Linked DNA regions of Homo sapiens: region 1 is linked to region 2. A link means that fine-mapping ties the variant in region 2 to the expression of a gene that starts in the linked region. Tissue or cell type: CD4 T cells. Region 2 holds a variant in brackets; the other region holds the start of a gene. All regions are shown on one strand. Distances are from middle to middle.

Evidence for each region. PIP is the estimated chance that this variant, and not a neighbour inherited with it, causes the effect.
Region 1: it holds the start of LINC02538, and the variant in region 2 is fine-mapped to the expression of LINC02538 in CD4 T cells (Kasela 2017, PIP 0.95).

Annotation. Positions count from the first base shown.
Region 1 is chr6:167,676,891-167,682,038 of GRCh38, reverse strand. It overlaps LINC02538 (long intergenic non-protein coding RNA 2538), which reads left to right and starts at 2,816. Exons shown (of 3, transcript NR_117091.1): 1 at 2,816-3,127; 2 at 3,840-3,979. LINC02487 (long intergenic non-protein coding RNA 2487) reads left to right here. Exons shown (of 7, transcript NR_117092.2): 7 at 102-1,348. It overlaps LOC124901465 (a long non-coding RNA gene), which reads right to left and starts at 3,807. Exons shown (of 2, transcript XR_007059883.1): 1 at 3,434-3,807.
Region 2 is chr6:168,643,597-168,648,744 of GRCh38, reverse strand. All of the region lies in intron 9 of SMOC2 (SPARC related modular calcium binding 2), which reads right to left. Among named protein-coding and RNA genes, the nearest start is that of SMOC2, 200 kb to the right of the region's middle. The variant G/A (reference allele first, on the strand shown) is at 2,313.

The DNA.
Region 1 (5,148 bases), 970 kb after region 2:
CATGAACTTCTGCATCCCTGGTTCTCTGGGCATGACTGTCTTCACCTTTATGGTTCACTCTGTGTCACTGGTGGGCTTTGCTCTGCTTCCTCCTCCCCCAGAGCATCTCCTGACAAAGCCACCATGAGCAAGACCCTCAGAGAAGGTATGAAGATGAGAGGCTGGTGTGAAGAGGCTGCTGTGAAGCAACTATATAGCATCGGGCAGGACATAAGGGGAAATTGTTGCTTTCATGTTCCTTTACCCCCACAGTTTGGATTTCTGCCACAAGGATCACTGTGGTCTTCCTCCCTGGGGCTCACTCCACCTACCCCACACCTCCCACCTCCCCCGTCCTCTCTTGGGGGACTTCCTGAGTTCTCGACAGAGCAGTTTCACTGTCTTCTCTCCACGCTTCCTGGACTGGCCCGCCCATTTTTTTCTATGACCCAGAATTCCTTCCCAAATAAGAGCGTCATATTCCTTGAGCCCCTTCACTAGAAGCAAGGAGATGGGCAGGCGTTGAACTGCGGCTTTTCTCTAGACTCTTCCCTAATCCCTAGGTTCCCCCAACTATTTAGTCTAGAGCAAGCCCAGGAACAGTGATTTTTTTTTTTTAACCTGCCATTTCTGTTATTCAAGCTGTTTTAGTCAGTTCAGGCTGCTGTAACAAAAATGCAATGGCCTGGGTGGTTTTAACAACAGAAATGGATTTCTCACAGTTCTTGTGAGGCTGGGACGCAGGAACCCCCACATCCAAGTGCCAGGCAGTTCCGTGGCTGGGAGGGCTCCAGACTGGTGTGTGGATGGCACCTTCTGCTGTGTCCTCACATGGCTGAGAGATGGGTCATCTCTGTTCTTATCAGGGCACTAATCCCATTCACAAGGCCCCCCATGACCTAATCACCTCCTAAATGCCCCGCTTCCTAATACCAGCACCTTGGAAAATAGGGCTTCAAGATACAAATTTTGGGGGACTCAAACATTCCATCCATAGCACCCGCTCATGTGCTGTGATGTCCAGTGAGCAGGCGGAGTTCCAGGGCTGGTCAGTGCCAGGTGCTCCTTCTCCCACCCGAGAACAGGGGCCAGGTTGCTCCTCAGGCACCCTGGGCAACTGCCCCTTCCCTTCCAGTGGGGCCTGACCTGGCTACCGAGCTTGGCAGCTAATAGGCGGGCCCCTCAGCATTCACGCTCCTGAGCTGCTTTATCAAACTAGGATTGTTCCCCCAGGTCTAAGAAAACCATCCATTCACTGCAAAGTTATTTATTACTGCGGATGGGCTAGGAGTTAGAGGAAGAGAGTGACTCAAATCACAACACCTCCTGGACGAAGCTGGAAGGGATTAAAATACGGCCTAATTTCTCCCTTGCTGTGTGAAGCGTGTGGTTCTCCTAGAACATCAGCCCGACTGTCGCTGGGTAGCGGCGGTACTGTTCATTCTGCATTAGCTTTGTCCAGATTGTTCAGTGTGGGTCCCTGCCTACAGATCTTGATTCCTTGAGATTGCCCTTTGTGCTTCTGTCTGGGGACTGCCTGTTTCTGTAATGGCCACCGTCTCAGAACACATGGTTGTAGGCCTCAGCATTTGCCTTACACACAGCCCCCTTGGAGACAAACCGTGTCTGTGTCCCTCAGAAGGCCCTGACTTTCAGGGCACACTCCAGCCTGACTTTGGCACTCTGCTAGACACATCCGAAACGCTGGTTCTCGTGTTGAAGTCTGTTATGGATATGTAGGGTAAGGCAGGGAAACTGGAGCGCCTGCATACCCTTGACTTCCTCCATTTGGAAAAGATAACCCTGAGACATGGTGGAGGAGAAGGGGCCCTGACCTGTCAGCTACATCTGGATGTAACTCCCCTGATGAAGAAAGTGCCAGAGGCAGCAAAGCAGCCCTTATAGGGTATTTTGTGCTCCCCCAACAGAGGAAGAGGAGCTTAGGGTCTCCAGGGAGAATGTCTGGTTGTGAAGAGCCGCCAGGACCTGGAGCTGCACGGTTGCTCAGTGTGCATTTCACTTGGTCAGCCCCTACGCTGGAGAGTGCTTGCATCCGAACCTTCAGTGCCTGGATAGACACTGAGCTGAGCGAACGGTATGCTGGAAAATGAAGCGTGCAAGTGACAAAGTGCTCAACTTAGACTCTGGGCAAAATTCTCACAAAGGGCTTTCTAATCCTCACTTAATGGAAGAGTGGAGCAATTTCCAGCAGAAGTTGTGGCTTGCTTCACCAGGTCTGCTCAGGTCAGCGGGGTGAGCCTACGGCCAGGATGGGTGGTAATTAATATTGGAATACTTGGCCAGTCTGCAGACCTCAGACCACAAAAAACCCTCCATCCTCAAGCAGTCTCTTCTTTATGCCTCGCAAGGGGAAGATAATTAAAGACTGTGGTAACGGGTTAATTTATAGGAAAATAATGTAGCATACTCAACTATCTATACTTTTTCTATTGCTAAATTTAATATACATCCATTTCTATTGATTATCAGAGGGGTCTAGACTCCCGGCCAAGAGTTGCGAAACCAGTCATTATCCCGCAGGCACCTTCCTGCTTTATTTCAGAACATTCAGTCATTCATTCAAAACAACCCAAAGCATCTGCATTCACAGAGCTGCCCTAACAGATGAGTTTTTCTTCATCTCCCAAGGTAATGATATAAAAAAAGTGTCAGCCATGGGATTTTCAGTGGGAAACGGGAAACCCAAGGCATGGTGCATTCAATGGAAAAATTCCTCAAGCTCGTGACCTGCATAAATCTCCAAATCCTTTTCAACATCATCCTGTTTAGTGTTCGGCATGAGGGTGCCTGCAGAGGAGGTGAATCCCTGCGTTTTCTATTCTTTTTTTCTTCCGACTGGTGTGGATCCCAGACAATTTCAGGGTCCTGCAGGGTTTGAGACCCTCTGTGAACACTGACCCGGGACCCCGTTTTGCCCATGGGAAGTTGAAGCCAGCGCAGCCCCCGGCCAGGGGCACTGTCTCCTCGGCCCCGGGATGCTGGACGGAGGGGACAACGTGCAGGGGCAGCTGCTGCTGGGCTGTGGACCTCCCGGAACCGGAGGAGCCCGGGAGGGGCTGGCCCAGCAGTGAGGGCTCCGATGCGCCTCAATTCATATGCTAAGGAGCCCTGGATTCGGCTTTAATTGGTGAGAGGAGAAAGTGGTGCAGCTGCCTGGGGCCGCGCTGTGGGAGCCAGGGCAGGAGGAGCTGTTTGAAAATAATCCCCGCGGGGACACGCAGCACCAACTCGGGCTTCAGTCCCTGGAAAGCGGCCGGGGGCGGGGCGGGAGGCCGGGATGCGGCGGAGAGCGACTGGCAGGGAAAGCGTGAGGTCACGGTGGCCACCGCACCGGCTCCAAGCAGCAGGGGCCCAGGGCTGAGCCCTGATTTCCACACCGGCCCCTGGATGAGCCTCAGTGTTTCACTCTGGCAATGGAAATAAGAATACCTACCTCACCCCATCGTTGGAATAAATGCAATAATGCAAAGGGAGGTCTTAGCACAGACGCGGGGCAGGCGCTCAACGCCTGGTGCCCACCGGCGCTGCGTCCTGGACGTGTCCAGCGAAGCCCGTGTGAGGCTATGACGGGAACGGAGGAGCTGGCGCGGCGCCTCACTGCTCCCCAGAGCCTTGCAGCGTCTCCCAGCCCAGGCTTTGCCCCACCACGGCTCCCATGGCTGCCGGAGGGAACCTCAAAGGCGGTTAGAATGCGCCGGGTAAATGCGCAGCTTTTCTTCTGGAGCCTCCACGAGAAAGAAATGGAGAGTTTTTTCCTGGGGCTGCTTGTGGTGCAAGTCCCGCTTGGGTGCAGGGCGAGCGGCTTCCGAGGAATTCACTGTCTCCTTCTCTCTTTCTAGCCGGAGTGGGAGGTGACCCCAGGGGCCCAAGCTGGGGGCGTGGCTGGGAAATGCACAGAAAGAGACTTCGACGGGGGTGGCTATGGTTTGTGCTGTGCTGTGCACACGTCTGGCTGATAGAAATCTATGTCTATAAACAGGTAACACAATTTGGTTTATCAAACCCATAATAAGCAGATTTTCTGACTTGCATAAGAATTTCTCTGTAATCTTTGCTTTAAAGTCCGTTGAATGCCATAGAAAAAGTTGCATTTGATGAGGCTTCAGGAAAGAAAAGGTAACAAACTATTCTAAGAGATGAGGATAGTGCCTGAGTGGGGCCCAGGACAGACAGGGGGTCCTCACCTCTTGCTGCTGGGGTTGGCTGCAGGGCTTTGCCTCAGTCTGATTTTTTGCAGCATCTACACAGTTTAAATACTTGGAAAAATCCTCTTTGTGAGTGTATTAAGTCACAGCCTACCAATGTGACAAATGACATCTAAATGCAATTTACAAATCCTAAGTTCCAGGTAGAAGAGAACGTGGTAGGTCCACGTCTTCATTTTCCCATACCTTTAGTCCGTCGAGACTCCGCTTAGCCAGCTCTGGCCATCCCTTTATCCTCCTAGGAACAGAATCTTACATGCAGTATTTTTACTGGTACGTAAAAAATTTAAGGCTGCACTAAGCAGGCGCCCAGGCCCCCAGAGTCAGAAGGGAGTGTACGGTGCACACATGATGACGATTTGAAAAGAGCCTGGCTTCAGGGCCTTGCAGATGAAGCTAACAAACCCCCTGTTCGGGAGGGAGCACCTGCACCCCAGCCCCCTCCCTCAGGGATGCATCTGCAGCCACTCCGGGGCAGGGCTGATGCCTCTGTGATGGTCCCGATGGTCCCGCCCGCAGCCTGCTCTTTGTGGCTCTTTGTTGCTCTTTGTCACAGTCCTGCTCAACAGCTGGTGCTTGCAGGAAGAAGCTCTCTGGCTGCAAGAAAGCCAGGGTGTGGGTGGATGACAGAATAAATGGGAGGGATGGAGGGCGTCTACTTGGCAGTTCGGATTCCTGGGCAGGGTCAAGATCAGGAGAAATAGGAAAATAGAAATAGGAGGAAAAGCTTCTGCCTTTTGTTCCAAACCAGCCTGGCTTGCCTGTGAAGGGGAGGACTTGACCAGGGCACTTTCCTGGGGCCACTGCCTGGCTTTTGGAGATGAGGTAGTGGCCTTTGTCTAAGATCATGTTACCTATACTCCTGGTTTAACTTTTTATTTAAAATTTTTTTAGACACAGGGTCTTGCTCTGTTGCCCAGGCTGGAATGCAGTGGCACGATCA
Region 2 (5,148 bases):
GTGCAGCCTTCACCAGGGGGGTTCTGAGAGTGCAAAAAGGTCTGTGTTAGTCTCTTTGCACACAACTGAAAAAGGAGATCAAAATCTATAGCAAAAAGCATCACGGCCACGGGGCAAATGCTACTTTCCAAGAAAGAAGTAACAGTCTCATCGAACATCCCCTCAGAAAGGCAGAGGACCTGAGGCTGCAGAGGCTGCTGGCCGCGGTGCTTCCAAAGCTGCCCAGCCCACCCGGCCTCGGCTCCCTGGGAGGGGCCTCCCGGTCTACAGAAGGCTGAGCTCCCCAGCTGCAGGACTAACCAGGAAGGGAAATGAGAAAAACAACTTGGAGGGCTGAAAATGCCTCCAGGGCACAGGCTCGGGAACACGTGGGCAGAAGCCCTGCCAGGCCAGCCGTCCAGGAGAACTTGTCCAGGGCGACGAGACAGGCGCCGGGGCAGGTGAGGCTGGGACCCACAGGACCTCGGGCACCTGCCTGCCAGGGCTGCTCTCTATGAATTTCCAGTCCTCCACTGGCCTCCAGAGATTCTGAGAGGAATATGGATTTGATGGAGAAGAATATTATTATCTGGGAGAAAAGGCGTTTTAGATAATCCTCAGTACTGAACAGCTTTAAGAAAGAATTATGTGGATATTTGGTGTGGTAATAGGGACACACCCAGGGGGATTTTTTTTGGCTGTTAATTTAATCATATTCCCCCAAATGAGATAAAGCAACACAATATTTCAAATGAGAAAATAATAGATGTTCATCACGAAACATGACTAACATAATATAAAAGCTGCAGGAGTCTTTAGTGCAAAAAGAAAAACTGAACATAAAAAGCATTATGTACTTCTAAAACAAGAAGCAGCAAATCAATCCTGCTCAGTCCCATGTCACAGTCACCCCAGGACCTGGAATAATGCTTGTTACTGATGACGGACGACTGTACTTCAAAACTACTTCTGAAGAAAAAAGGCGAACAAAAATGAAAGATTACAAGCAATCAGAAGAAAAAAACTAACTTTCATTATGTTAAAGTGAATGTTCACTGCATGAGAAATCACAGAAGTACCATGAAGTGAAAATTTCATCACCCTGAGATGTCCCAGATCTAGCAAACGCATGAGAGGAGCAACGAGGCTTGAGGTAAAAGAGAAACGACCCCAGAACAGCTGGGATTTCCCCACTGTTGCCCACAGGGAGCTATTCCGCTTCTCCCATGACAGCTGTGTCCGGCACGGTGATGGCTGCAGAGACCCTCGTCCCTCGCAGGGGCGCTGGCCCCCTGCCAACCCTTGCTGTAACTCCTCTGGCCCATCTTGATAGCAAAGCCACCCTTTGCTCTGGCATTTTGTGGTGTGTGATTCAGGCTGGGGAAGCTGCCCGCTGAGAACCTGTATGAGGAGCCTGGTGCTCTGGTGGGTCCTTTCTAGCACACTCCGCCCCCGGCCTTCTTCTCACTTAGCCGCCTGCACGGTGGGGTCTAACGGCCCCTGTAAATACTGCGTCATGGAAGGGTTGGCGTCAAAACTGCCGCATGCAGGCTCAGCGATGTACCCAGTCACCCTTTATTTTGGGACAGTTCCACTCACAGTAAGTTCTCCAACCACCCATTGAACTGAGTTCAGAAGTCTCAGGTCAACAGAGGCATAGCACGAAGGTGCTACCCCATACACACTCCCACCTGGGTTAGACGTGCCAGGCCCTCTCAAAGTCCACACCATGTGGCAGTGTCCTATGCCCAGGCTCCTGGGGGGAATAATAAGCCAATTCAAGAAAGAAAACCAGACTGTTCTTTTCAAAGCTAGAAACAGAATAAGTTCACCAATTTATATCCAATCTGTGGCAAAACAATGAAGGGAGTAGCTTAGCCCAAGTATCCTCAGGTGCTCCAGCTGATCTGCAGAATCCAAGTCCTTGACATCTGTGAGGTTTCTGTGGAAACACCGGGTTCTATCCTGGTTTTGCCCCACAGTAAAGGTGCTGCACCTTACAAAGCCCTGAGCCCTTCTCAACCCCAGAGCTCATCCAGTCAACAAAGTGGCTGAACTGGCGGGTCCCTGAGACCCCAGCCTATGGACCAGGGACTTTTCAGAAACTGGGTTAATATTCTGATGCTTTAAAAGCATTTTTGACTTTCACTCGTTTAAAATGAATGTGTTCTGTGCTTTCTATGAAACGTCCTTATTTTAAGAAACAAAAACCATTTTTGTATAAAAATTCCTGTTTCAGTAAGTTTATGTAGTTTCTTCTTTTCTCTTTGTCTTTTAAATACAAATGGATACAAGTTCCCAGCTGCTCCCTCAGTCGCCTCCTGTCTGGACAC[G/A]AATTAACTTTCGCTTCCTTCCCGTAACCTGGAACACCCAGTACTGCCCCTGAAGGAACTCAAACACAGGAGAAAGTGGAGCTGAGTGGTTTCCTCACTCACCGATCAAGAGAAGAGACCACTGGATAACAGCAGCCACACACTGGCACAATCGTGGGTCTGGATTGTGCCAGTGAGGCCTGCAGGGTCTGGATCGGGAACACGAGGGAAGCAGGTGTACGGACGGGGGCCAGAGATTTCACACGCAAGTAACATTATTAGCTCATCAGGCATGAAGTGTCTGGGGATAATGAGACGCATTCCTCTGGTTTTAAGTATCTAGCAGTGGCTTAAAAATCAGTTCTCTTAGTTTCATGTTTAGTTCCAATGTTTAGGAAACTGGTATAGATGAGAAATGAGGAGAAAAGAATGGATGACAAAGGAGCTTTCTTCTCTAAGTTGTTCAGATGCTTCTGAGGAGTGGTGTGTGCACGCAGGTATTCACGCCATCATCATTGTCTATGTATCCACTCACAGTTTTAGCTCCTCTGGCTTGGAAGTCCAATCATTTCTGTCAAGCAATCAGCCTGTGCTCCAATTCGCCAGCCAGGGACCCCGGGAATGCCTTTGCTGGCCTGATGTGAGGGGGACAGGTCAGCCACCTGAGAAAAGACTGTCCTCGTCTCCCATTGGGGGCCTGCGTGGTGACCTGGGGGGAAACCGCTTCTCTCGGTTTGGGCCAGGAACATGTGCCGTGTCTGCTGAGAACACCTGCTGGGCACCTTGGGGTCACTTCGTGGAGGTGGCAGTCAAATGCTATCTCCACTCTTGTGCCCGGGCTGTCACATGTGGGTTGGGAGAAAGCCCACAGGGTTGGATTTTTGAAGATTTGGTCAGAATTTTAAGGCGGGAACTGAGCATTCTCAAAGCCTGTGTGGTGCCCTGAGGGGAGAAAAGGCCCGAGGAGAGGAACTCAGGTGAACTGAGGAGTCTCTGTCCCGTGCTAACTCGCTAACTCCAGTTTCACTGGAATAAGGCAGAGGTTTCTCTGTCTGAGTGGCCCTTCCCCGTGGGTTTTAGGCTCACTTCCTCCCCATTTTAAGAATGTATCATAGAAAAGTTTGAGTGTGCTCTAGTTTTGTGCCATTTCCCCAAGGTAAAAGAAATACATTTTTAACTGCAGAGTTAAAAACGGACAGAAAATGAGACTTTTTATTGCTTCTAAGGGTTGAGAGAAATGGAAATAATGTTACTAAGATGTTTTTGTGACTCCTTCTCTCCTTCTCCAGAAATCTGTAAGAAAGGCGCTGAGAATTTCTCCTTTGCGATTAAATCCAGTTTTGTCTTGACACTAACAAAATTTTACATTTACTAACTCTATGATGAATGTTAGGAACCAGGATTTTAAGTTCCTTTATTGATTATAAACTATTTCAAACTATATAAAAGCAAATAGTTTATAATTTTCTTTCTAAATTATCTTTACTTGTAAGTAGGCATTCACTTGTGGGTCTGGTGGCTCACGCCTGTAATCCCAGCACTTTGGGAGGCTGAGGTGGGTGGATCACTTGAGGTCAGGAGTTTGAGACCAGTCTGGCCAACAGAGTGAAACCCCATATCTACTAAAACTACAAAAATTAGCCAGCCATGGTGGTACATGCCTATAATCTCAGCTACTTGGGAGGCTGAGGTGTGAGAATCACTTGAACCTGGGAGGTGGAGGTTGCAGTGAGCTGCGATCGTACCACTGCACTCCAGCCTGGGAGACAGAGCGAGACTCTGTCTCAAAAAAAAAAAAAAAAAAAAAAAGAAAGGCATTCACATTGACCCAACATTTGATTGGTCCTCTCTTTGTGCATAGCTGGGTGCCTGGAAAGAGCTCTGGGTACCAGGTAGTTTCTCCCTGACCCTGAACATCACTGGTGACTTGTGATGAAGGTTCCATTGTGTGCACACCAAATAAGGGGCATCTGTCTTCTGGTAGAAAAAGCTCTTTTCATCTGGCTGGGGAGGGAGAAAGAGGGTGCCAATAACAGCACCTGCATTTGGCTGGGTCTTTTCACAAACAGCTAGAAATAAAATGTCATGGCTACTCATTCTCACAGTTTAAAACACACCGACCTGGTACAGAAAAGCAGGGAAGATGTTGAGCCTCTGAGTGGCAGCCCCGCTGAAGAAAAGGCATCAGAGAAACAAAGGGGAAATTCCCAGGGCGGAGGGGTCCCGAAGCCATGTCCATAAACACGTGTGCTCTCACACTTGGCAGCTTTGGATTACCAACATTTGCTGAATTTGAAAACTCCGCTTTAAATCCTGACATTGCCAGAGTTAAAAAGCACCGCAATCTCAATGCTCCATCCCCAGCCGAAACAGACCACTCCTTCTACATAGTAAATGCTCATTTATTAAATGCTGTGCTTCTTTGTTTTATTCCAAGCGCAGATTTTCCTCCAGCACTCTTCAAAGAGCATGTCCCAGCTGTGTGGTCCAGGGAGTGTCACATGTGTGACGGGGTTCACAGAGGCAGGACTACAGCATTCCTGTCTGATCTACGCGTGGGGCCGTGTGCATGTCACCCTCATGCAGCTGACACTCAGCACCACACTGTGGCCTCGTGACTGCCTGGTGAAACTAATCAGCACATCAGTGTCTGAGGGAGAAACTGAGGCCCAAGTCACACTCAGTGGGAGACTGAAGGCTTGGATGGTGCTGAGAACTCTGACCTTGCTGGGGGGTAGAGGCAGGAGTGCATCCTACGTCCAGGTGATTTTGTGCCGAGCTCACCTGGAGCTCTCCCCGCTGCCCCACGGCCATGATGAGGCCGGGAACAGCAGACAAGGCCCCTGCCCACCACCAC